Linked DNA regions of Homo sapiens. The protein of the gene in region 1 interacts with the protein of each later gene in a biochemical or structural test. Each region holds a gene or a part of one and is shown on either strand. Other genes may lie near its edges.

Evidence for each region.
Region 2: the proteins of ERBB3 (region 1) and RASA1 form a complex in vitro, tested with the Homo sapiens proteins (2 studies listed by BioGRID and IntAct, with this or other methods).
Region 3: the proteins of ERBB3 (region 1) and PTK6 form a complex in vitro, tested with the Homo sapiens proteins (2 studies listed by BioGRID and IntAct, with this or other methods).

What each region holds. Positions count from the first base shown.
Region 1 is NC_000012.12:56,083,165-56,090,189, reverse strand, and holds part of ERBB3 (receptor tyrosine-protein kinase erbB-3 isoform 1 precursor), read right to left. Parts: intron 6,877-7,025; exon of another isoform or gene 6,642-6,876; intron 6,440-6,641; coding exon 6,288-6,439; intron 5,196-6,287; coding exon 5,009-5,195; coding exon of another isoform or gene 4,878-5,008; exon of another isoform or gene 4,573-4,877; intron 3,660-4,572; coding exon 3,534-3,659; intron 2,614-3,533; coding exon 2,548-2,613; intron 2,396-2,547; coding exon 2,277-2,395; intron 2,170-2,276; coding exon 2,028-2,169; intron 1,648-2,027; coding exon 1,534-1,647; intron 1,443-1,533; coding exon 1,322-1,442; intron 1-1,321. UniProt on the Homo sapiens protein: Tyrosine-protein kinase that plays an essential role as cell surface receptor for neuregulins.
Region 2 is NC_000005.10:87,375,864-87,382,888, reverse strand, and holds part of RASA1 (ras GTPase-activating protein 1), read right to left. Parts: intron 6,497-7,025; coding exon 6,324-6,496; intron 6,009-6,323; coding exon 5,849-6,008; intron 4,494-5,848; coding exon 4,351-4,493; intron 3,155-4,350; coding exon 3,039-3,154; intron 2,381-3,038; coding exon 2,294-2,380; intron 1-2,293. UniProt on the Homo sapiens protein: Inhibitory regulator of the Ras-cyclic AMP pathway. Stimulates the GTPase of normal but not oncogenic Ras p21; this stimulation may be further increased in the presence of NCK1.
Region 3 is NC_000020.11:63,527,495-63,534,395, forward strand, and holds the end of PTK6 (protein-tyrosine kinase 6), read right to left. Parts: intron 6,822-6,901; coding exon 6,658-6,821; intron 6,211-6,657; coding exon 6,057-6,210; intron 5,194-6,056; coding exon 5,032-5,193; intron 3,434-5,031; coding exon 3,252-3,433; intron 2,738-3,251; coding exon 2,584-2,737; intron 2,230-2,583; coding exon 2,042-2,229; 3' UTR 507-2,041; downstream 1-506. UniProt on the Homo sapiens protein: Non-receptor tyrosine-protein kinase implicated in the regulation of a variety of signaling pathways that control the differentiation and maintenance of normal epithelia, as well as tumor growth.

The DNA.
Region 1 (7,025 bases):
TGTCTCTACTAAAAATACAAAAATTAGCCGGGCATGATGGCACACACCTATAATTCCAGCTACTCAGGAGACTGAGGCAGGAGAATTGCTTGAACCCGGGAGGCAGAGGAGGCGGAGGTTGCAGTGAGCCAAGATTGCACCACTGCACTCTAGCCTGGGGAACAGAGTGAGACTTTGTCTTAAAAAAAAAAAAAAAGTATATGGGGAATTTTATACCATTCTTGCAACTTTAGTGTAGATCTAAAATTATGTCAAAATAAAAAATTAAAGGAAAAAAAAAAACAGGTGGTCATAGTGGGTTTTTTTTACACACACACACACATTTTAAATGCTGTCCTATAGACTAGAAAGTCCCTTTGTTCTTTTTGCTCCAAGGAGCAGAATGAGTGAAAACAGCTAAAAGTCATGGGGAGACAGAATTTTCTTTTCTTTTCTTTTTTTTTTTTGAGAAAGAGTCTCGCTCTGTCGCCAGGCTGGAGTGCGGTGGTGTAATCTCGGTTCACTGCAATTTCCGCCTCCTGGGTTCAAGTGATTCTCGTGCCTCAGCCTCCTGAGTAGCTGGGATTACAGGCATGTGCACCACCACACCCAGCTAATTTTTGTGTTTTTAGTAGAGATGGCATTTCACCATGTTAGCCAGGATGGTCTCGATCTGACCTCGTAATCCGCCCACCTCGGCCTCCCAAAGTGCTGGGATTATAGGCATGAGCCACCGGGCCCAGCCTGGAGACAGATTTTTATCCAAATCTAAGGAAGAACTTTTACAAAACTTTAAGAAGGAGGTTGGGTGCTGTGATCCCTAGCACTTTGGGAGGCCAAGATGGGAGGATTGCTTGAGCACAGGAGTTCGAGATCAGCCTGGGCAACATAGCAAGACCCTGTCTCTACAAAAAAATACAAAAAAATTAGTCAAGTATGATGGTGTGTGCCTATAGTCCCAGCTACTTGGGATCACTTGAGCCCAGGAGGTCGAGGCTACAGTGAGTCGAGATCACGCCACTGCACTCCAGCCTAGGTGACAGAGCAAGACCCTATCTCAAAAAAGAAAAAAGAATAAAAAAGAAAACTTTAAGAAGGAGGATATGTTGTTCCTGTCCCTTGTTCCTTGGCAGGGCGATATTGAATTGCTCAAAGATGTTCCTGAGGGGACCGAAGGCCTGGATGGAGGATGTGTTAAGCATTCTTTCAGGTCCTTTGTAACAGGCTAGAATTTTATGACTTTGATTCCTAGTCAGCTCCACATAGGAAAGTTTTGGCCAATGAAATGAACTGTGAGGGGTGCGTGGGCTGGGGTCTAAGGAGGGAAGGCAGGATCTCTAACCCATTGAGGCCGGTGATCAGAAAGTCCAGGTTGCCCAGGATCTTGGTGCAGTTCACAAATCCATCAATGTTGCTCGAGTCCACAGTCTGGAAGCGGCTCCCAGAGCCTGTTCCCTCACAGGCTGCAAATGTAAGAGAGGTTCAGTGGGGGTGGTCTGCGCAGGCTCAGAGGAAAGGCTGTCTCTTTACAACTTCTTACCATCTCCTACCCACCTTTGGGACATAGTCCCCCACAAGGCTCACACATCTTGAGCCCATTTTTATCTACTTCCATCTTGTCAGGAGGACAGGCCCTGACACAGGATGTTTGATCCACCACAAAGTTATCTAGGGAAGAGGAGGAGGACACCATTAGAGATGAGGGAGGAACATCACCAGCTACCAATGGAACCCTTGCTCTGGGCCTAGGCTCCCTCCAGCTCTGCACTGGATTTGTCCCCATCTGCCACCCTAGATCCCTTAAGTGCTGCCCTATAGATTCAAAAGTCTCTTCACTATTTGTTGCTACAAGGAGCAGAAGTAAGGGTGATAGCTGAAGTCATGGGAGGACTGGACGTAAGGGTCACTCACTGGAGTGGTTAGATGATCATAACCATTCACCAATCTCCCTATTTATCACCAACTGGATTCTTTTTCCCTTCCACAATTTTGTCTAAAATCTTGGATCTACTATTGTTGATCATTGTTCCTTCCCCTCAGACACTTACGGGGACAGCTGGCTACACAAACTCCTCCATACTGATACTTGGTGTGGGGATTGGGTTCCAGCTGGAAAGTTAGCTTGTTGTAGACAAGAGGCTGTGGACAGCGAGGTACACAGGCTCCACTGTCATTGAAGTGCCGGCAGGCCTGGGAAAAAAGGAGGCTCATCAGATTTATGTTACGTGTGTACCCCTACCTCCTCCTCAAAGGCCACATCCCAATTTCAGAACCCAGGCAATGGAAAGGGTACATACAAAGCAGTCTGTGTCCTGAGGGCCTGAGCAGCCCCCGGCACACTCATCATGGCAGCACTGGTTGGGGTTGGGCCCAAAGCAGTGACCATTACACTGAGGAGCACAGATGGTCTTGGTCACTATGGAAGGAGAGAAAGCATGGCTGTTAGGGCTCCTAGGACTGAATTCTGAGGCCACTGCTCATGCCTCCCCCACAGTGTTGACCCAGGCTTGGGGAGGAAGGGATATGAAAGCGTATGAGTGAAGTTTTTGGAGGGAATTTCAAACCCACATGTCTGGCAGTCTTCTGATCCAGGACCCCAGCATCGCCCCTTGCAAACCTCATGACAGGGGGGACCTGGTTGGGAAGGAAGGCAACACAAGGGGCCATCAGGGCTAAGAAAGGCTTGTTTTAATCAACGGGGTATGATGTCAGTACACAGGCACCTCAATCCCGGGAAGCAAAAAGCCAGGGCTGTGTCCCTCCCTGCCCTTGGAGAGCAGGGCTGGGCTCAAGTGGACCTGTCAACAAGGGGCGCGGCCACGCCTCCACACCACCCACTGGGCAGCTGAAGGGGAGGGACTGGGGCAAATGCCAACCTTAGTCCTAGTCCCAACCCAGGAACTTAGTTCCTCCTGGGCAAACTGAATATATGCAGGAATATATGCATGTGAATGGTCAGGGGAAGGTGGGCTCCAAGGAAATGGGAGTATATTCTAGTGGAACGAGTAACAGATGTGGAGTCTAAAGATCTGGCTTCCCTGCTTAGTACTCAGGGATTTTTTTTTTTTTTTTTTGAGACAGGGTCTCACTCTGTTGCCCAGGCTAGAGTACAATGGCACAATCACAGCTCACTGCAGCTGCAGCCTCCTGGGCTCAAGCAATCCTCTGCCTCAGCCTCCTGAGTAGCCGGGATTACAGGTGCGAGCCACTACGCCTGTCTGATTTTTTTAATTTTTTGTAGATTTTTTGCTATGTTACTCAGGCTGGTCTTGGACTCCTGGGCTCAAGCGATCCTCCCACCTTGGCTTCCCAAAGTGCCAGGATTATAGGCATGAGCCACCATGCTCGGCCTGCTCCTTTTCTTGAAACACCTCCTCTGTGGTTTAGATTCCAGGAGACTGGAATGGTCTGCCCTGGTGGGCTGCTGAGTCAGGGACCTGAGGTGTTTGTTCACTGGGGAGGCGGGTTCAGATCAGGAATGTAAGGATGATGGAAAGAAGGGAGTCACTCTGGTTTGGTGGGACTGGGGAGCAATCTTGATCACGGCCACTTACAGCTTCTGCCATTGTCCTTCACCACTATCTCAGCATCTCGGTCCCTCACGATGTCCCTCCAGTCAATTGTGTCCATGTGACAAAGCTTATCGTTCTTCTCAATATAAACACCCCCTGACAGAATCTCTGAGGTAGGGAAAGAAGTGACAGGGTTAAGGGCCGCAGCGGAACGCCTCTTCCTTACCTCTCCACCCATCCAAAAGGACACCTGAGACTCAGGAGTGGGAGAATGAGGCAGACAGATAGGTCCAATTAAATCTAAGCTGCAGAGAAGACTCCCTTTATAAGATGAGGAGTCAGGCCAAAAGAAACTCCTGCCTCCTCAGTCACCTGTCCAGATCCGGTTTAGCTAGTGGGGGAGGGGAAGGGAGAGAGGGAGAGATTTCTGACTCAACATTCCCTCCCCCAAGCCCTGCCCATATGTTTTCCAACTGACTGGGACATGGAGAAGCAGAAGATGGACAGGTGGTTTTTAACCCCTATATTCCTCCAGCTCATAGGGGTTTGGTTTAGGAGAGTAAAGGTAGAATTCCTAGGGAAGGAGGGACATCCAGGTATACTGTACTTTGGTTTTTTTTTTTTTTTTTTTTTTTGGAGTCTCGCTCTGTCGCCCAGGCTGGAGTGCAGTGGTGCAATCTTGGCTCACTGCAAGCTCCGCCTCCCGGGTTCACGCCATTCTCCTGCCTCAGCCTCCCGAGTAGCTCGGACTACAGGCGCCCGCCACCACACCTGGCTAATTTTTTGTATTTTTAGTAGAGACGGGGTTTCACCGTGTTAGCCAGGATGGTCTCGATCTCCTGACCTTGTGATCCACCTGCCTTGGCCTCCCAAAGTGCTGGGATTACAGGCGTGAGCCACCGCGCCCAGGCTTTTTTTTTTTTTTTTTTTTTTTTTTGAGACGGAGTCTCACTGTCACTTACGCTAGAGTGCAGTGGTGCAATCTCAGCTCACTGCAACCTCCACCTCCCAGGTTCAAGCGAGTCTCCTGCCTCAGCCTCATGAACAGCTGGGATTACAGGTGCGCACCACTATAGCCAGCTAATTTTTTATTTTATTTTATTTTTTTGTATTTTTAGTAGAGACAGGGTTTCGCCATGTTGGCCAGGCTGGTCTCAAACTCCTGATCTCAAGTGATCTGCCCTCCTTGGCCTCCCAAAATGCTGGGATTACAGGTGTAAGCCATCAGGCCTGGCCTCCGGTACACTGTACTTTGAAATTAGAAAAACGGTTAACAGATCCAGCTCTGACTCCAGCCCCACAAGGACACAGGGTTCCTTTCCCTGGAGCAGATGCCCCTAGCTCCCCCTACTGGGGGCCCTCTATTGCTTAGGGAGCAATGGACCTTTAGACAGCGGCCAAGGTGACAGGCACCTTGGAAGAGGCACTTAGAGTGAGCAGTCTTGGGTCATCATCAAGGAGGTACCAGTCTTGGGCTGGCTGAGGGGTGAGGCCAGAAGGAACCATCGGGAACTGACCGGTGAGCTGAGTCAAGCGGAGCTGGCGCAGAGCGTGGCTGGAGTTGGTGTTATAGTTCAACATGACGAAGATGGCAAACTTCCCATCGTAGACCTGGGTCCCTCGCACCACGCGGAGGTTGGGCAATGGTAGAGTAGAGAATTCATTCATGGCCACGAGGACATAGCCTGTCACTTCTCGAATCCACTGTGACAGAGCAGATTATGTAAATGAGAGAGACAACAGGGCAAAATAATCTCAATCTCCTCTCCTCCTTCAGGCATTAAAGACTCTTTAACTGTTTTAATTCTTCCTTCTTTCTTTCCTTTCTTTTTTTCTTTTTTTTAAAATTTGAGACGGAGTTACGCTCTTGTTGCCCAGGCTGGAGTACAATAGTGCGATCTTGGCTCACCACAACCTCCACCTCCCGGGTTCAAGCAATTCTCCTGCCGCAGCCTCCCAAGTAGCTGGGATTACAGGCATGTGCCACTACACCTGGCTAATTTTGTATTTTTAGTAGAGATGTGGTTTTTCCATGTTGGTCAGGCTGGTCTCGAACTCCTGACCTCAGGTGATCCGAGCTTGGCCTTTTTTTTTTTTTTTGGTGAGACAGGGTCTCGCTCTGTTACGAGTGGCACAATCTCGCTCACTGCAGCGTCAAACTCCTGGGCTCAAGCAATCCTCCCACCTCAGCCCTCCAAGTAGCTGGGACTACAGGTGCATGCCACCATACCCAGCTAATTTTTGTATTTTTGTAGAGACAGCGTTTCACCACATTGCCCAGGCTGGTCTTGAACTCCTGACCTCAAGTGATCTGCCTTCCTTGGCCTCCCAAAGTGCTGGGATTACAGGCATGAGCCACTGCACCTGGCCTTAACTCTTGCTAATTCCTATTTGGGAGTAGGGAGTAGACTGTGTCACACTGCTGTGTCACTTCTGGGAGTGAAGACAGGCAGCTTTCTCCTCAAAGTGCCTCATACCAGTAGGGCCCCTTCCTCATCTCCCCAGGTAACCTCTTGGTCCTCAGGTTTCTCTCTGCACTAGTCCCTGCTGACCTTGCACTATCCACAGAACACCACCTGCCCCTGACCCTGCCCCCTATATATCCCTGGCTACAACAGTGAGACCATAGGTCCCAGATGACAGCCACTGTCCCCATAAATACACGGTTTTGAATCTTAGGAACTCCTGAGTCTTAGGAAGGGTGAACTCCAGCAGAAGGTAGCCCTGAAGAAGGAAGGAGGGTTCTAGGGGAGAATAAAGAGGAGCAGGTTGAGGAAGGAGGGTGGGCTCACTAACCTGCAGGAAGGAGAGGTCGGCATTGTGTCCCGTGAGCACAATCTCAAGGTTCCCCATCACCACCTCACACCTCTCGTAGAGCTTGTACAGTGTCTGGTATTGGTTCTCAGCATCGCCGGTCACACTCAGGCCATTCAGAGTCCCAGGACACACTGTTCAAAGCAGAGGGAAGAGTGGCTGAGGGCTGGACACAAATTCTCAGCCCATCTGCCATCCCCAAAGATCACCCCCTTGGTTGCCCTCTTCCAGTTACATTAGACAGGATCAGATGGCATTTGCCTCCAACCCTCCCACAAGCGATAGGCAGAAGCTGTAGTGGCCTGAGAGCTTTCTCTCTTCTCAGAATCCCCTTACCATTCCATGAATGGGAAGGTGAAAAGATTTCCTTTTTCAACCTGGGACCCCTCTGTGCTTCTTTTGGGTACTAAGGGGTTAACTGAGAAGGAAGACAGGGAATTTGTTTCTCTCCCTAGAAAAGAGAAGTTAGGAAAAGGCCGCAACTTTGATTACCCTCCTCTCCCCCTCCAACTAGGGCACTCACTTCTCTACCCTCATCCTGCCTCTCTCTAGGTCCTGGAATAAATATCTCTTTGGGACTAGTACACAGCCCCTATTGTGTCTACTGAGGGTGGGATGGGGGCAGAGGGTGGGGGCAGTGCCTGGGGCCACAGTCCAGCCCACAATGAGGCGATTCTATCCAGGAGGGGGGCTGCCCCACCCTGTCCCTAGACACCCCGT
Region 2 (7,025 bases), on another chromosome or scaffold:
GACAATTTCAAATTCCTGGCCTCAAGCAATCCTCCTGTCTTGGTCTAAACATGTTGAGATTACAGGCTTGAGCCACCATGCCCAGCCTGAAAAACTTTTAAGACAAGACATTAGGAATTCTAAAGTTTTAAAAAGTTGTCAAATTATAAAACAATAGCAAAAGCAAAAATTATACTAACAGCTGTCATATATGATTTTATCTGCTAATTTTACTTTGGGACAATGTCAGTGTTAAAAGCTTGCATAGATACTCCTATTCTGCCTCCTTTAGTCACTGGTAGGGAGGATATGTTGTCATGTAGATAATTTCTAATTTCCTTTTAAGAAGAATCCACACTAATAATTAACCTCTTACTTGCCCCATGTAAAGACAAGCATTATTCCTAAAATAATGAATTATGCAATTCCTTCTACAGATTGATAGACATAATCCATGTAAAGACAAGCATTATTCCCAAAATAATGAGTTACGCAATTCCTTCTATAGATTAATAGATACAATCTCTGTTCTCTGTTAGAGTGGATTACCCAATTTCTTAGCATTTACCTTTGAACATGTACCTGTTTGCTAATTTTTGGACTCTTAGAAAGTAAAGATGTTACTTCTCAAACAGCATTTATAGAAATTCTAATATATTGGCTGGGCATGGTGGCTCATGCCTGTAATCCAACACTTTGGGAGGCCGAGGTGGGTGTACCACCTGAGGCCAGGAGTTCAAGACCAGCCTGGCCAACATGGTCTAACCCCATCTCTACTAAAAATACAAAAATAGCCAGGTATGGTGGTGCATGCCTGTAATCCAGCTACTTGGGTGGATGAAGCACAAGAATCTCACTTGAACCTGGGAGGCGGGGGTTGCAGTAAGCCGAAATCACACCACTGCACTCCAGCATGGGCAACAGAGCAAGACCCTGTCTCAAAAAAATAACAATTAAGTCTTTAATTTTGGACTTCCCAAATTTAAAGAATCTTGTAAACTTTACTTGAAAATATTGTGATAATTATACATAGTAGGTCTATGAGCCTGAAACCTAACCTTGGCAAAAATGCCCTAAAACACCCTCTTGCACGAAACAGTTTACAATTTCCTGCTGTGTTTGCTTAACAGTTATACTTGTTTGAAACTTACAAATTTATAGAACAGTTTTAATTTACATCTCACACGTAACTGTGCTGGAATATTATGCTTGTAATTCTTTTCTATTCCTCCCAATCACCACTAATGCCAAGAAAAACAGAATCTGTAGTTCTTAAATATTATGTCATATCATAACCAAGAGAAATATTACCTGCCCCCCAAAAAAAGAAATAGAAGCCCCTTGACAAAATTTAGGTTGGAGGCAGGATTAACACATTTTCAAAACAAACTGTGTAATAATGGTGTTAATGGTTGCCTAATTATTTTACATATAGCATGACATGACAGTGTATATTCTAAATAACAAATTATATTATTAGAAAACTGCTGTATTCCATGACGCTTTCGCATTAAACTTCCATTTGCCTGGAATTAGTTGGGGTATTAGTTGGAGTATGCTTAACAAAAGCAAAAGCCTACAATAAGACTCAAGGATATCAGATTGGGTCTTAGAAAGTTACCTTTAGTTCTGCCTTAGCCACCAGCTTTCTATAAAACCTTAGTTCAACTTAACCTCTCCAGACAGATCTGCTTCTTCATTGGAAAAATAAGTTAGAATAATGATAATGAAGTAACCTTACGTAAGCTCCCAAATTCCATGATTTGCCAAAGCAGTTCTTCCTATAGAATAATGATAATGAAGTCCCTTTATATAAGCTCCCAAATTCCATGATTTGCCAAAGCAGTTCTTCCTAATTATGGTACAATGAGCAGACTGAAACACAGCTTCAGAACTACATGTTCTGGTTCTGATTAGCTCAGAGTCACAGATTGTAACAAACCAATTAATATCTAAATCGGTCAATTACTGCCCTTCTCTCTCACTGCCAATCAATGTGTGTGTATGTATGAAGAATACTATATGAAGTTAGCTACAGATTTTGTTATATAACTTTTAGCCTCATCTTGTAAGGGTTTAAAAATCCCCAATACTTGACTATAAATGAATGTTCATGTTTTTAGAAAATGCAAACGGCAGCTAAATCTCACAGTAACTTTCAGTTTAGGAGCCATCTGGACTTAGAAAATATGCAACAGGGCTTTGACATAAAAGCCAAAGAAAAAAGCATTGAATTGTATATTGTTATTCCTCAATTTTTCACAATTATCCACCTATTAGTATGTGATTTAACAAATCAATTGATGAGCCTTACCTAACAACTCTTGTTCTCATGGTGGTATTTGTAGGCCACTTATGCTGAACAGATTTCTGTAAACACCCATAAATATATCTCAATGTCCTGCCAAAATAACACAATCATCTCAACACAGAAAGCAAGTGAAAACACTGATCTCCTAGCAGCCAAAAGCTTAATTTACCCAAATATACCACAGTTCAATAAAACTGGCCTTTTACCCAAAAAAGTATTTTGCCACAGGTAATGAGGCATTTAGCAAGGGGTAAGGAAAACTTTATCCACTAAGTTTATCATCAATTTATTCAGTCAACTTCCTGACATTTACTTTCAGATATAGAGAACCAACCAGCTGCAAATTCTGGGGAGCAAGATTTAGACTTAAGTTAACTTCTACCTGAACAAGTGAGTTCACTAATACTGGAGGCCGACAAGCATATTAACAGAGTGATTAGTCTATCAAGTATAGACTAAATGGATAGACAAGATATCTTTTACAATCTCAAATCTGAAACTATAAACCTCTATTCACTCCCCAAGCTACTACAGTACAAACCAGACATATTGGCTTGTACGAAAATAATGGGTGGTTTTATTAAGACAGCTATTTTCTTTAAATACAATTCATCTCATAAAGATTAACCATGACTTTTTCAGAGTATAATAATATTAGGACAACAGAAAAGCTTTCACGTTTTAGAAATAGAAATTTCTGAAGACATAGATACACAATTTCTTGTCAAATGAAAATTTCACCACTTACGGTGGAAGTATTTCTGAAGCCATGAATATTTTCTCCACAAGCTCTGAAAGTATGTTCAATAGGTGTGTTAAATTAGTGTTCACATCTTCATTTTTTTCTAACTTTGATGGACTTAACTAAAAGAAGGAATAAATCAATATAAATGCATGTTGGCAATGACAAATGCAAATGAATAGAGGAAAACAAGTAGTTATAGTTTTCGAGGTTGTCTATTTTTCGGTATCTCTGTGTGTATTGATCTTTTTTCTTTGTATAATGGGAGTTTTTAAGTAGTTTTCTCTATGGAACTCCTCCTGGTAGGTCTGTTACCATTTATTCCCAATTAGCCAACTGAAAAGCAAACAGTGCTTAGTCAATTCTATTTATTTGAGGGGAAAAAAAGCTGATTAAAAGCTTTTCTGAATGAGGCTTATTTAATGGCTAATAAAAATATCAAATGCCTTAGGCAGAATCACAAACCTTTCTCAGAACTTTTCCTGTAACCCTTCTGATCTAGTGTCAGCAGAGTACATTTATCTATGGAAGTCGGAATTCCGTAGCCTATCTCTAAAGTCCAGAGACTCCCTACCTACCTGCTGCACTTCTGTGTCATCCTTATGTTAGGCCAACTATGGCATTACCCCACATTTCCAACATTAAATCACTAATTTCTTCCCTTCAAGTTATTAGTATGAATCGACACCTTCGTGCAGGATTAACATTTGCTAGGTCCCAGTGTCCATTGTCAAAAACAATTCCTTAAACTGATTTTTATATCAGATCTAATATATATTATTTCTTTGTAGTTGCTTTACCATTAAAATGAGAGAATATGTGTGTGAGATTCCACTTACTGTCTTAATAGTGTATTATGAATTTATACTGAAACTTTAATAATCCTAAAAAGATTTTTTTGTTTTAGTTGAGGTTATCTCATAATTCTCCCCTCGCAAAAAAACCTTCAAGAACAAACCAAGATGTAATGAAGTGCTACATAGGTTATATAATGAGTCACTAACAAAACCTTCAATTTATCTTATGCACGCTTTCTGTAAGTAGTATATAGATTATTAGTACAGTAGAGGAAATGACAAAGTATTTTCATGAATTTCTGGTGCAACTTGATGGTTTTTAATCCCAAAATAAAGTACATCTTTTTTAAGAAGTCCATTTTGCAGAACATTTTTATAAATGTATTACAGACAGGTGTAACTGCTATGAGGAATAATTTTAGAAATTTAATATATTTTCCTTAAAATGTAATTGGCTACAAATTATTACCTATTAAAATATGTTCTTTGCAAAAATACTTATTAAAACATTAAATTCTTACCTCACAAGACTGCTTGCTTTCCATTATCTTTAAAATAGAGTCTTTCAAAGCATGATGAACAAACTGTGTAGCAGTGGCTTTCATATACTGCTCCATCAAGGTGCTTGCAAGTGTTGTGGCTCGAAATAGGGTAGTGGCTTCATCTACACAAATATTTACATTAGAAGATTATTTGTAAAGGACTGACCTAATGTGACCAAATTGGAAATTAAGTGAATTCATTTTACCTCAACAGGAATAGCCACTTAAATGTGCTTTTTGCGTGCAGCGTTGAAAGTACTAATTACAATGACATCCTATACTTCTACAGACTTAACTCTGTAAGACTTTCATATGTATTACCTCATTAGATCATGAACAGAAGGGATTAACACTGCCATGTTCATATGGAAAAATGAAGACTCAGAATTGTTATATGACTTAAGATCAATTAGACAGCTAATGATAAAATTAGGACCATAAATCAGCTTTGCTGCCCATTGACCCCATGCTTTGAAATTTTAGGGTTTATTTACAATTAAGGATATAACACAAAATCCCAGTATAGATTAATTTATTAGCTTAAAATATGTCTACTGAGTTTCAGTAAAATTTTAATGAAATACAAATGCTGTCAGAAAAGATAAACTCAAGTGTAAAATAAGGACCACCATTTTATCTATTCCTTGACAAATCTATATTTTGTGATGAGGAGGAAAATAGTTCTAAACTTTACTATTTATTTGGGGAACCTAGAAGCAAGAACTGTTAATGAATCAAAGTGCTTGGTGGTGTGTGTGGGCCAGGGGGAGGGTGGATTATTTTGTAAGCCATTAAAAGCACTGTGTCCAGCAGCTTGGGAACTACCTATCTATAAAAGTTAGAAATAAAATGCAGCTGACACCCAGCTTCTGTGTAATGAAGAAGTAAAAATTAAACAAGACCTGTAACCCCGGCACTTTGGGAGGCTTGAGGCAGGCGGATCACCTGAAGTCAGGAGTTCAAGACCAGCCTGGCCAACATGGTGAAAACCCGTCTCTACTAAAAAAATAAAATAAAAAATTAGCTGGGTGTGGTGGCATATGCCTGTAGTCCCAGCTACTTAGGAGGCTGAGGCAGGAGAATCGCTTGAACCTGAGAGGTAGAGGTTGCAGTGAGCCGAGACTGCGCCACTGCACTGCAGCCTGGGCGACTGAGATGCCATCTCAAAAGAAAATAAAAAACAAGAGAATACAGATAAATATGCCAAACAGTCAAGCCATTGATGTAGACACAGATACCACCTTCTTGTGGCTTCTAGTACTTATCTGCCAAAACCTACATTAGAAATATCAGCTTCCCATAGTAACCAACATAATCAGAACTGACATCCAACTGCAATTTTTAAGGAGGGAAAACAGAATAACTTATTTTGCAATATAATTTAACAATTTAGTATATTCAGAGATAGAGTCCATATATCCTTGATATAAAATCTAAACCCAGTTTCTTGTATCACACTAACATGGCCATACCATACCTTCCATGCTTATTTCTCTGTCATTTAGTGTGCATAACAACAACGATTCAAGCTTTTCGTGAAGAAAAATCCTCAGTAGGATGCTGGCCAGTAGTGTTCGGTCTTGTCCACATACATGTGATAAAGCATAGACTACATGAAGTTCCTTTTGCAGTATAAGCTAAAATGACATTTTAAAAGATTGTTTAAAGTACGTAGCATTATAAGCATGCTCCATGAGACTAACAAGAAATATGTTCTTTCACAAGTTCTTATATTTAAAATGATGTCCCATTGAATAAATTTATTTAAAATAGAATGAATTCGTAGTCTACTTATTTCTACCAAAATTACAGTATAAAACAAGGTTTAAAATCTCTGGCATCATTGTGCTACTAAGCTATGAATTACTATGTTTACCTTAATGGATCTTTTATTAAATGTTAAATGTTTCTGTTAATTCCAACAAAAACAAGACTGATAAATAATTTAATACCTCTTTAAATTCACTGTACTCTTCTTCTGGCATGATTTTTTCCATAGAGTATCGTGCTCGAACACGCAGGGACCCTGGTTCAATACCTTTTAATGGTATATGGGAGCTGAGCAGAAACCATTCATCTGTGGCATGCCCTTTCTGTAATCGGCTCAACTGGCAGCGCATAAATACTTGGGAAGAAAAACAAGCAATTATTGTTTAAAAAGAGAACACGATAATTAGTCATGCAAGTAAATTTTCCTGGTGTTCAGTCTTCCCTATGGTGTTAAATGCTTTTCATTAAAGGAGTTTTCAGTAACATCACAAATTCAATATTTAGTTGTTTATTTACTGAGTGTCTACGGTGCACTAAACTCTGATAGGTAGAGAGTACAGAGATGATTGAGATGTGTTCTTTGAGTTGCATAGAGGTCAGTTTAGTCAAGAAGGCAAGAAATCAATTATGTTTCAGCACTGGTAAGTGCTGTTAACAGTGGTGAATGCTATTCGAGTACAGAGAAATAATATCTAATTCAGCCTGTGGAGGTGAAAACTCCACTTTAAACAGGTAACCCTTGAGCGGACGAGATCTAGAGGTGTAGCTAAGAAGAAAAGTAGTGAAAAAAGAAAAAAGAGCACTTCAAATATAAGGTATGGCCTTCGTTCTGTGTCATTACTATGGGGTTTGGATTTTATCGTAAAAGTAATGGAAAACTAAAA
Region 3 (6,901 bases), on another chromosome or scaffold:
AGTCCCAACTATTCAGGAGGCTGAGGCGGGAGGATCACTTGAGCCTGGGAATTCAAGGCTGCAATGAGCTGTGGTCACGCCACTGCGCTCCAGCCTGGGTGACAGAGCAAGACCCTGTCTTCAAAAACAAAAACAGAAACAAAAAACGTTTTCTTACATCTGGAAAACAAAATATTAAAGAACCGTAATGCTTCAGACAAAAGTCATTAAACAGTAAACATCCTCGTCAGTTCATTCATTCCCATGTCATTAATTCTTGTTCTGGTTGATCCTGGGACAGAACTTTCATGGACCTGCCAGGTCCCTCCTTCGAGTTCTGGAAATTTGCACCCAATCCAAGGCTATGACCTGAACCAGAAACCTGTGCTCCAGAGCACCTGTCAGAATCCTTCCCAGGAATCTCTTTGAAGAATAAACAATTTGGGACTAGCTGATTGCAAAGCTTTCAGAAAAAATCAAAGTAAGATAATAACTGTGAATGACCGAAGACTTAAGATAGCCATGGCTCAGGATCTGATGAGAGTTTATTATATTCGTGACACGGTTGGCAAGGAAACTTGGTTATTTCTGTGGCATGCAGCATTTTAATGTAATAACCAAAATTATGACTGATAACATTGCACCAGATTTCTAGGAATAGCATGTGAGATAGGATATATATCATAGGATAACGTATCAGATTTCTAGGAATTTTATAGAGTTTCTGCAACATTCATATCAAAACCAAACCCGTAAATAGAACCTCCAGAAGACTTAGTGTGACTTACTATTTCACACGCTTTCCATCTCATGTAGCACATCGGATAAGCCTGATTAGTCTGACATCTGTCTTTCACAAGGCAGAAGACAAATCCTTTTGAGAAATCCTAGTACCTTTCCAGAAACTCCCAAAATTATTTTTCTTTCTTTCTTTTTTTTTTTTTTTTTTTTGAGATGGAGTCTCGCTCTGTCGCCCAGGCTGGAGTGCAGTGGCGCGATCTCGGCTCACTGCAAGCTCCACCTCCCGGGTTCACACCAGTCTGCTGCCTCAGCCTCCCACGTAGCTGGGACTACAGGCGCCCACCCCCACCACCACACCCAGCTAATTTTTTGTATTTTTTAGTAGAGACGGGGTTTCACCGTGTTAGCCAGGATGGTGTCGATCTCCTGACCTCGTGATCCACCTGCCTCAGCCTCCCAAAGTGCTGGGATTACAGGCATGAGCCACCGTGCCCCGCCTATTCTTCTTTTAAACCAAAAAAACTTTCAGGTGAGTCAAAACCAAAACCAATAAGCTTTTTATGACTTAACCATGGATGAAAGAGACACCTTCAAAATCAGGTGCAAAGGAGGCAGCCCCCCCAGCCCGGAACCACCCCACAGACAGTAGAGAAGGGCCCTTGTCAGCGCAGGAGTGAGGGGCGCTTTCCAGCACTGACCCAGCGACAAAGGTGAAGGTGGGAAAAGCCCCTTGTGGACGTGGACGGTGAAACTGAGCTGGCGCCTCGGGCAGTGATGCTTGGGCTGGCAGAGACCAGGGAGAGAGTTCTCACTGGTCATAAGGCCAAGCTCTCAAGACACAAGACAAACAGGAAAGAAACACCTGCCCCTGGGAGGAAAGAACCCTTGAGCACCAAAACCAAATTTACATGAGCGTCCCGAGCCACGCGAATGACTTTCTCCCACCAAGCTGAACTGGGAAGAGCAGGAACAAGGCGTGTTTGCCTCCCACCCTCAGCCGGGCACTGCAGACAGACAGCCAGAGAGCGGGCTGTGGTCAGAGTCCCCTCTGACCTCTGCTGGCTTCGTGTCAGTCTCCCGGATCTCATCTGCAGGCTCCAGAGCAGGCTGCGTGTCAGCAGCTGAGACCCAAGGCACACACGATGGAGTAAGGAGAGGAGCACACGCGTGTATTGGACGCAGACACTCCACATTTGTGAACCTTTCCTGCACCCATCACCTCAGTAAACCCCAGGGAAGCGCGTGGGCCTTGATCCCAGGTCCAGGCCCTCTGCCCAGGCCCCTCCTCAGCAGGGCCCGGCCATGCCCGCTCCACAGCAGCTCAGGTCGGGTTCTCGTAGCTGGTGAAGCTGGAGAGCCTCTCCCGCAGGGCCTTGAAGCAGGGTCTCTGCTCGGGGTCCCTGCACCAGCATGTCAGCATCAGCTTGTGCACGCTGGGCGGGCACTCCAGAGGGCAGGGCATGCGGTAGCCGGCGTCCACCCTCAGGAAGGCCTCATGGTTGGACATGCCTGCGGCCGACAGGGATGAGAAGAGCTGGGGCCCACCTGCCTACCCTCCCCCAAGAAGCCACACCAGCCATCCACTGCCCCTTCCTGGGGCCTTCCCCGCAGCCTCAGCTGCCATGCCTTGGCGCCACCCAGCACACTGTCCACTGCTAACACCTCCCTCTGGACAGGGCTCCAACAGGCAGCTCCAGGCACCAGCCTGGGTGCTCAGAGAATGGTGCAGGTGTGGAGTTCAGGCGATGGCCCGCGGAGGGCCCTGAAGCCCGTGGGGGAGGCACCCCCCAGCGTCCCTGCCGGCTACCCAGGACCTCCCCCACTCTGCCTCTCATGCCCAGTCAGGGACAGTGGGGACAGTACCTGGGTAGGGCACCTGACCCCTGCTGAACATCTCATGCAGGAGAATCCCAAAGGACCAGACGTCGGATTTGGTGGAGTAATGGCCTCGGGAGAGCGCTTCAGGGGCCGTCCACTTGTAGGGGATATTGTGGTCATGGGAGAGGTAGACGTCCTCCTGCAATCAGCCTGGAGCTGAGTGGGCCGTGGGGGCTGCCTGTGCCCTGCCCCCGAAGCATGGACGGGCACAGCGGCCGCATTGCCCCAGCAGTGGGACGGTGATGACCCCACTGTCTGACCCACGCACGGCCGCTGCAGCTAAGGCCACACTGGGGCCTGACCACCTTCAGGAGCCCAACTTCCCCTGGGATTGCAGGTGTGTGGGGACCGGAGGGCCCGGGGGACAGGGAACTGGGAGGCTCCCAGGCCGTCAGAGGGGCCCAGGGCTGGGCCAGTGAACAAGGCACGTGAACAAGGCAGCGGCTGCGTGGTGGGCCCTGCTGTGCGTGCCATTCAGAATGGGGGCCCCACCGGACTCACGGTGGCTTCCCACCTCCCTGCCCAGCCTGGGCTCCCGAGGGCAGGGGCCGCATCCTGCTCCCAGCCGAGTCCCCAGCTCCACACACAGGAAGCCCCCAGCCCTCCGGCCACGCCCCGGCCACGACCCCAGCCACGCCCTCTGAGGGCCCTACCTTGATAAGCCTGGCTAACCCGAAGTCCCCAACTTTGCAGAGGGTGTTTTCCCCGACGAGGATGTTCCTGGCGGCCAGGTCCCGGTGGATGTAATTCTGCGACTCCAGGTAACACATGCCCTCAGCCACCTGCCAGGCGATGTCCAGCAGCTCCGAAACGGGCAGGACTTTCTCATCAGAGTCTGCAGAGGGGAGTGGAGCAGAGCCTGGGGTCAGCTGAGCCAGCTGAGGTGGGGAAGGGTTGGGGAGGCTGGGCCATGTCTCATCTGCCTCCAAGCTCTGCGGGCTCAGAGGAGGGGCCGGGGCAAAGGGCAGCTGGCCTGATTGAAAATTGGAACTGCAGGCCAGCTACCGCCCTTCTGGAAGGCAACTGTTTATCACGAACCAAGGAGCAAGCTGGGCGTGGTGGCTCACGCCTGTAATCCCAGCACTTTGAGAGGCTGAGGCGGATGGATCACGAGGTCAGGAGATCGAGACCATCCTGGCTAACACGGTGAAACCCCATCTCTACTAAAAATACAAAAAATTAGCCGGGCGTGGTGGCGGGCGCCTGTAGTCCCAGCTACTCGGGAGGCTGAGGCAGGAGAATGGCGTGAACCCGGGAGGCGGAGCTTGCAGTGAGCCGAGATCACGCCACTGCACTCCAGCCTGGGCGACAGAGCCAGACTCCGTCTCAAAAAAAAAAAAAAAAAATATATATATATATATATATATATATAATTAGCTGGGCGTGGTGACAGGTGCCTGTAATCTCAGCTACTCAGGTGGCTGAGGCAGGAGAATCATTTGAACCCAGGAGGTGGAGGTTACAGTGAGCCGAGACTGCGCCATTGCACTCCAGCCTGGGCGACAGAGTGAGACTCCGTCTCAAAAAAAAAAAAAAGAACCAAGGAGCAGTTCCTAGTGGTCTAGCCCAGCGATTTCCCTTCTGGAAGTTTGTGATGACGCGGGAGGAGCTGGACGCAGAAGGACCAGCGAAGAGGCTCATGACTGCGTGATGTAGGCAGTGGGAACTCGAACAGGAGAATGGCTGTCAGCGGCTTGCGGCCTGGTGGTGCCTGTTTTACCCCACATTCCCTCCCGGAGGACCCTGAAGGGCGTGGGGACTGTCTGAGATGATCAAGCCCTTTGTGTGAGGGCGAGGGGTACGGAGCCTTTCGCTCAGAGCGCAAACGTGCGTGGTGCCTCAGTGTAGCTCTCCTCAGACACACACGGCATTTTTCCTATACCACAACGTTCCCTCCCATTCTAACATCGGAATCCAAACTGCGCCTTCACGCACGGGCATCTCCATTCCCTGGCAGCGATTGTCTTTGGTTTTGGTGAGAAAGGAAATAATGGAACTTAGAGAGGATGAAGTCTTTGAGCCAATGTGATCTGTGTGTGTCTGTGTGTGTGTCTGGATCAGTGTGTGTCTGTGTGTGTGTGTGTCTGTGTGTGTCCGTGTGATCTGTGTGTGTGTCTGTGTGTGTCCGTGTGATCTGTTTTGTGTGTCTCTGTGTGTGTGTCTGTGTCTATGTGTATGTCTGTGTGTGTCATGTGATGTGTCTTGTGTGTGTGTCTGTGTGTGCATGTGTATGTCTGTGTGCATGTGTGTGTGCATGTGTGTCTGTGCGTGTGTGTCTCTGTGTGTCTGTGTCTGTGTCTGTGTGTGCATGTGTGTGTCTGTGTGTCTGTGTGTCTACGTGTGTGTGTGTGTAGACGTGGGGGGGGGGTGTGCACTTTATTTCCTCACGTGCCCCCGCTGCCTCCAGCAAGAGCCCCGGCCCATGCCACTCACCGCGGAGCAGCTCCAGCAGGCTGCCCTTGGCCATGAGCTCCGTGATGATGTACACGGGGTCCCCCACGGACACCACGGCGTACAGCGCCAGGATGTGTTTGTGCCGCAGCTTCTTCATGGCCTGGATCTCCGACTGCAGCATCTGCTGGTGCAGGAGGTTGTCTGCGGGGACGGGTGGCCTCGGTGGATGCAGCCCCTGACCCCCCAGGCCCCAAGGAAGAGGCCAAGGCCCTGCCCCCACACACAGCAGCCATCACACCCAGCAGCTGTGCAGGACACACAGACCTCCTGCCCCCGACAGGGCACCTGGCTCCCGAGGCCACGAAATGGCAGATGCAGCCGGCCCCACAGGGCCCCAGCCTGGCGTACCCACGGGGCTGTGGTGGCCACCCGATTTCTTCCTGTGCCCGGCCCAGACCTCTGACATAGAGGCCAGACCTCTGCTGGGGCCCAGACGGGTTCCAGGGAAGTTTTACCCATTTCCAGTGATCTATTTTAATGGCTTTCCATTACGTCAAGGATTTTAAATTTTCTTTCTTTCTTTCTTTTTTTTTTTTCCCAAGACGGGGTCTTGCTCTGTCGCCCAGGCTGGAGTGCAATGGCGCGATCTCAGCTCACTGCAATCTCCGCCTCCTGGGTTGAAGCGATTCTCCTGCCTCAGCCTCCCGAGTAGCTGGGACTACAGGCACATGCCTCCACACTCGGCTAATTTTTGTATTTTTAGTAGAGACGTGGTTTCCCCATGTTGGCCAGGCTGGTCTCAAACTCCTGACCTCGTGATCCGCCCACCTTGGCTTCCCAAAGTGTGGGGATTACAGATGTGAGCCACCGTGCCCGGCCTAAAATTTTCTTTTATAATAAATGTATTTAGGTAAAAACATAGGTGCAATTGAAAGGGAACCACTCTCGCATGGACGCTGTGGGTGCTGCTTGGGGCTCGAGGCCAGAGGTCCCTGTTGGCGGGGTGGGAGGGTGGCCCAGGGCAGGCACGGGGCCACACAGAGCCCTGATCGGGGCCCACTCACCTCGAGAAATCACCTTAATGGCCACCTGGACCCGGTCTTTCCAGAGCCCCTCGAAGACCTCCCCAAAGTAGCCGGACCCCAGCTTCCTGCAGAGCGTGAACTCCTCCCTCGGCCTCTCCCAGTCATCCCAATGGGGCAGGGGCTCAGGCTCGTGCTGGAGGAAGAGTCGGGGACACAGGGCAGGGGCTCATCCTTCAGGAAGTGCCAGTCTGAAGCCAGCACAGGGAGCCTGGATTTAGCCTCAGATTTAGGGCCACGATCAGCCTGGGTTGGGGGTTTCTGAGTGTCTGACACAAGGGTGGACTCTCCTGGGGGCTGCCCCCAGCCCAGCATGAAACACCCAGACAGACCGGAGCCAGGACCCTGCAGAGTGCCGCTGGCCTCTCCGAGAGTGGCCAGGCCCGGGGATGGTCTCCTGGCCCCACCCCCAACTCAGGCAAACACCTGTGCTCTGCAGAACCATGGGCTTCCCTCCAGTGGGCCCCAGGTCAGTGAGTCAGGACCCCTCCCATGCTGCCCGGCCAACCTCTCCCAGTAGGAAATGCCAGCCTGTGACCCCCCAGCCTGACCCCGCGTGACCAAGTCAGGGCGGAGCGGCTACCTTCCGGCAGGGCGCGGCCAGCCGCAGGCCGTGGGACAGGCTCTGGGCCCTGTGGTAGTTCACAAGCTCGGGCAGGCTGAGGAAGGACACCGCCTCGTTCAGGTGCAGCCGGCCCCCGGCACGCCGCCAGATCTTGTAGTGCCGCACAGCCTGCGTGTCCCGCACTGGGAGGGAGAGCGTGAGCTGTGTGGCCACCCCAACTCCGACGCCTCCCTGCGTCCCCAGCCCTGCTGGCCACACCTGC